Linked DNA regions of Homo sapiens: region 1 is linked to region 2. The links come from fine-mapping of genetic effects on gene expression. Tissue or cell type: whole blood. Region 2 holds a variant in brackets; the other region holds the start of a gene. All regions are shown on one strand. Distances are from middle to middle. Region 1 holds the start of SLA (Src like adaptor). Region 2 overlaps TG (thyroglobulin).

Region 1 (2,916 bases), 65 kb before region 2:
TGATCTCTACTTCCTGGGTCACACATCTCCTTAGTCAATTTTCCATATAGCTGCCAGAAATGTTCCTTTTTAAAACAGTGGATCAATATAATCACCTTCTATTATTAGCTTGAAACATTCCAGTAACTGCCCACTGCAAGGAGAATAAAGTCACTTTTCTGATGGCCTGAAAGATCTCATAACTGGTCTTCTTCATCCCTCTGACTTCCTCTCCTCCCAGTCCCTCCACTGGCCACTGGATCTCCTAGCACTGACCTCCCTGTGACCCCCAAACAGCCAGGACCACTCCTGCCCCAGGGCCTTTGCACCCACTCTGTACCTCAATCCCCATCGCTGGCTCCCCATTGCTCAGGCCTCAGTCCAGAAGTCACCTCCTCCGAAAAGCCTTCTCTGACTGCCCCTAAAGTAATTGCCCCATTCCATCGCCTCCTCTGCAATGGCCCCACTTCAGTGTTCTTCAGGGCATTTCTAAGATCTGAAATTCTTTATTTACTTACATCATCTGTGTCCTTTCATGAGAACATGAACTCTCCGAGTCAGAAGCTTTATCTGTTTAGGTTACAACTGTGCCCTCTAAAGCCTAGAGAGAGTCCAGCGCACAGAAGCCTCTGAATAATCTATGTTGGAGAGATGCTGCATGGGTTAATGCTTGAATGACTCCTGACTTCACTGCTCCTTATGGTGTTAAGGGACAAGGACTTACTTCTCCATCAAGCACAGCTTGCTCAGGGCCAAGGGCTCACTGCACTTTTAGGAACTCACAAAAGTCTTTTCTTTCTAATTTCTTTTAAAATCAGAAGAAAAAATATAATAATAATGAAAATGTAATAATGAATCCAGCCTGGTTTACATTCATCCTTATAACAATGCAGTCATGAAATACAATATTTTAATATTTTGGGGGGGACAAGTCAGTCCTTCTGATCCTCAGCTTTCTCTGAACCATAATCCCAGCTCACAGGGCCCCTGGGGAGAATTAGACAACGTGACGTGTAAGCGTCAGCTGTGAGGGGTAATGTGGGGCTATAGCTCCAGGGTGGAGGGTTTACAGTGTGCAAGGGCATCCTAGAGCCATGAGACCTACAGGGCTCTCTGGGTGTTGGGAGATACCTCTTTCGCTTCTTATAACACTGCAAGAGACAGACAGGGTGGCTCTCACTGTGTCCATTTGAAGGCTAAAGAAACTGCAGCTCAGACCAGTTCAGCAACTCTCCTACATCGTGTGGCTAAAGCTAAGAATTGTGACCCATTTTTCTGAATCCAGGTCCCCGCGATGCCCTGGGTTCAGACCCTAACACCCTCCCGTCCCTGAGTGCTGGGGATTTAAGGCAGCAGTGCCTCCTTTCAGGAAATCACACACACACTGGAAACTCCTGCATACTCCTCTTACTATAATCTGTCACCAAAGACTGGATATTCCTGTGCTGGGGCTCGTGCCAGCGCCTCGGGCTGCCAGGTGCTGCTTTCCAACTCCCACATGGGCTGCCCTCCCCCTACTGCTACCCACAGGGCCCCCACTCCACCTGCTCCCAGACGAGGCCAACTCCTGGCCAAGCTTAGGGGCACAGCGGAGGCGCTCTGTTTCTGATTTTTCTCGCCTTCCTTGGAGATGCCTGTGCTTGGAAGGGAAGGCAGAACATTGCATCTTGGAACAAATCTGCTTTTGATCATGCAAATGAATGCCTGGATAATGTAGGCAGACTGTCAATTTCACCAGTTAGAAAGAAAGAGAAAAGGGGGAGAAATTCCCCATGACAGCGACTGATGAAGAATTTCAATAGAAAGCTGCTACTTCAGAAAATAAGATCATTTGCTGCGAATGGAGAACATCTCAGGCAGCCCTGATGCTCCACCGGTAGGTTGCTAACTTTGCTGTCATTGGGACCCCCTGGGTGGGCCATAGGTGGCCTGGGGTGGTATGTGGGGGAGGGTCTTCAGAGGGACTTGATGGATCCTGTACCCACCCTCCGTCTTTGGTCTGAAGAAAATGGGTGGGTCTCTGCTGGTGGTGAGTAGCTCCAGGGGGCAGGACTTGGGGTAAGAGGCTCCACTCCTGTCCCTCCGTGACTTCCCTGGGAAGCTGCACTGCATGTGTTTGTGGACTGGGATCCAGCTGATACTTATGCAGCGTTGGCATGAGTAGAGAGCATGCATTTGTGTTTACTACAATTTGGAAAATTGGTCTCAGGTCAGCTGAGGTGGTTCAGAGATTGGACGTTCTTTGTATTCCTGCTTTCTGTGTATAATTATCTGAAGAAGGGATAACAGCTTTGGACACTAATCTTAATATTAAAATTAAAAAATTAAGGGAAAAGAACGAACATTTATTGAAGCCAAACTATTTTCCAGATATTGTTGTGTATTTGAATTTTTGAACATCTTTATGAGGATATTTACTAATCATCTCCCAACTTCACAGATAGGGAAACTGAGGCTCAGACTCTGGGTAACTTGGATGCTCGTGATTGCAATCCAAGGACACCCAGGACACTCTCCCTGCTGTGTTGACACATGACCAAGGGAGCGGGGTCCTGGTCAGTTCCTGGCCATTGTGTCACTCCAGCTGACAGTGCTGCTATGGGGCCCAATGGCACCTGATCTCCACCTCCTGAGGTCTTGGAATAGATGTCCATCTCTCCATATAGTATGTATCAATGGTGTTTCAGTTGTTTGCCTTGTCTGTTATCATCTGACTGCAAGCCCTTCTGAGGGGAGGAATTCAATTTGTATTTTATGCTGAAACACCTGGCCCAGCATGACTAAACAAACAGGTGTTGGTGTTACAAAAACATGCTGGACACCCTGTTTAGGTGGATGTGGCAATTTACTGCAATTGATATGTCCTGTTTCTCAGCCCCAGATGGGGCAGGAGGGGCTGGGTGGGTATCAAAGGACAGAGGATGGAGTAAAAGGCAT
Region 2 (2,916 bases):
TACAAAAAATTAGCTGGGCGTGGTGGTGGATGGTTGTAATCCCAGCTACTCAGGAGGCTAAGGAGGGAGAATCGCTTGAGCCTGGGAGGCAGAGGTTGCAGTGAGCAGAGATTGCACCACTGCACTCCAGCCTGGGCAACAGAGCGAGACTCCATCTTAAAATAAATAAAGAAAAATAATAATAAGTTAGAGAAATAGTCACCAGGATTTTTGTTTTTCTTTTCCTCCTGTTCTCATTCTCTTGCCCTTTATCTCCTCCTCTCTCTATGACTCTCTTTTTTTCCCTTTCTCTACTGCCTTTTCTTCTGGCCCACAGACTGCAGGAGGACCCCGAGGGAACAGAGAACCCGCTTGGGGTAGACGAGTCCCTTTTCAGCTATGGCCTTCGAGAGAGCATTGCCTCTTACCTGTCCCTGACCAGTGAGGACAACACCTCCTTTGATCGAAAGAAGAAAAGCATCTCCCTGATGTATGGTGGCAGCAAGAGAAAGAGCTCATTCTTCTCATCACCACCTTACTTTGAGGACTAGCCAAGAACAGACACAATGGTTCATGCCCAAAAGGAACAGAAGTTCCAACTATTGCCTGGGATCTTGCGAAAAGCGAGGTTCCCTGATCCCTGGGAGCCTCACGTATTTTAGAAGCCAAGAGAAGCCACATGGAGACTCAAATTCGCATCTTCTCTATCCACATCATGACCAAAGGAACCCCTCCCTGGTGTCTGATCAGGGCTGTGGCATCACGAAACATTGGATCATGACATGTCGGGCGATGCTTGGAAGAGCCCAGCATGTATGTATGCACACATTGTGTGTGTGGGAAGGACAAAGCCACTCTCACAAGAAAGGGCACCAGGACTGCTCTCCAAGGAACTGGACCTGTCCAGACAGTTACACTCCAAGGTCATTGGAGAGAACTTCTGTATGGGCAAGCCTGAGAGGGAGAGGAAACAAAAGCTGTGTCCTGGCAGAAGGTCTGGGTTTGCAGATGGGTGCCCTGAATGGAACTACTTTAACTAATCCATAGGGACTTCTGGTATGCTTTCCTCTCTTTTTAAAGGAACTTCGTGACACTAAACATTAGCCCAAAGGACTTCTTAGCCTTCAATTGGGAGATACCTTTGGTCTGCTCCTGCACCAAAGCCATATGGGTGGAAGTCAGTTGGCCTCCCTGGTTCTGCAGAGGGCCAGAAGAATGAGAGAGAGGAAGACTGCTGGCAGGGAAATCGAGGAGGCGAGACTAGAACTGCACCAGCTTCCCTGATGTCTGCAGCCATGGCTTTGCAG[C/T]GCAGACAGAGCTTCTCTGGGATGCTGGGATTCTTGCCTGTATGAATGCATCAAGTATTCATTTATTGCCCGAATAGGCATTGCATTAAGTCCTCTGTAAGGTGTCAGGCAAGCCAAAAAAAAAAAAAAGATGCGTAAGTCCTAACCCCCAACAGAGGTGTTCACAGTGTAGACAGGGAAAAAATGTATAAACAAATGTGTAAAAAGAGAAATCAGCTCATGGCTTAGGATGGAATTAGAGACAGGTGAGGGACACTCAGGAGCTCATTTTCCAGCTGCTCTTCAGAGTGGAAGGGCTGGCTGGATCGGGTAGGTAAGAATAGCTGGATTTTTTAGAAAAGAAATGGATACAGTCTAAAGAATTAACTCACCCGGTACTTTATTCTAAGAAGGGTCTGGCATCCATATGAGGAAAAATGCTCAGCTCCAGGAAAGATGGGGAGTCCAAGTGGATTAATGATGTCATGCATAATTTTAAGAGACAAGGGAGAAAACACAATGTATAGCCAGAGAAGGAGAAGCTCCCATCCAAATCCTACTAGGAAGAGAGTGGGCTGCAGATGAATCTGTGACTCATGTTTCCCTGTTTCAAAGGGATCCTGGGGAAGGAGGGGAACATGCTTGCAGTATCTCTCCCTGTCTGTCTGCTCACATAAGCATTCCGTCCATCTGAGCTCATCGTGCTACTGGTATGTGTATGTGCAGTTACACAGTTTTCTGTATCATAGATTCTAGTGTGTTTATACAAGGAGACATCTGTGGTTTCCCCAACCGTTCCAAAAGGCTATTTCAAAGGAACCAGCCAACGTATGAGAAATGAATGTAACACTGTGGACATTGACTTCCCGCATAAGGCAGGGTGACCCCCTGAACTCCAGATGTCTGCACAGTATCTTATGTGTTGTTTTCCGTTGTGACGAATGTGATTGGAACATTTGGGGAGCACCCAGAGGGATTTCTCAGTGGGAAGCATTACACTTTGCTAAATCATGTATTTATTCCTGATTAAAACAAACCTAATAAATATTTAACCCTTGGCACACAGGGAGAGTTTCTGGGTTGAGGAGGATGGGTGGTTCATTCAGAAGCTCAGTGGGTTTCAAATTTTCAAATAAACGTGCAACTAGAGAGAGAGGAGTAAAGATCACCCAGAGAAACCTGGTGCCAGTTAGCAGCTCAGCATCTTCTTTAGGTGTGACCTTAAGAAAAAGCAGATTGTATGACTCTGGGGGGTGTCTTACGAAACTTGAAGATGGGCCTAAGGGATTGAAGGAAACACCAAATTCTGAACGATTGTTATAAAAACGTCCTGCCTAGATTTTCTGCACGTTACTTGTGATAGCTGCGCTATTTGTTCTTCCAAGAATTTCTTTCTGCAGATATTTCTGGACACCTACTAAATAGACACTGCTCAGGTACTGGGGCTATAGCAATGAAAACCAGATGAGGTCTCTGATATCATGGAGCTTGACATCATAAATAAACAAGATGCTTGGTAATGATGGTGATGAGGATGAGGGCAGGCTCCAAGCAGTCACCTGGCAGGCAGGACATCCTTCAGGTCCAGGCTTAGGAAAGGCCTCCAAGCAGAGGCAATGTTTGGGCTGAGGCCTGAAAGATGAGCAGCAAA

Evidence for each region. PIP is the estimated chance that this variant, and not a neighbour inherited with it, causes the effect. A credible set is the group of variants that fine-mapping cannot tell apart.
Region 1: it holds the start of SLA, and the variant in region 2 is the best candidate, but not a certain one, in a credible set for the expression of SLA in whole blood (TOPMed, PIP 0.77).

The regions. Positions count from the first base shown.
Region 1 is chr8:133,101,492-133,104,407 of GRCh38, reverse strand. It overlaps SLA (Src like adaptor), which reads left to right and starts at 1,806. Exons shown (of 9, transcript NM_001045556.3): 1 at 1,806-1,855. All of the region lies in intron 43 of TG (thyroglobulin), which reads right to left.
Region 2 is chr8:133,036,138-133,039,053 of GRCh38, reverse strand. All of the region lies in intron 41 of TG (thyroglobulin), which reads right to left. It overlaps SLA (Src like adaptor), which reads left to right. Exons shown (of 9, transcript NM_001045556.3): 9 at 317-2,326. The coding sequence ends at 530. Among named protein-coding and RNA genes, the nearest start is that of MIR7848, 9.0 kb to the left of the region's middle. The variant C/T (reference allele first, on the strand shown) is at 1,287.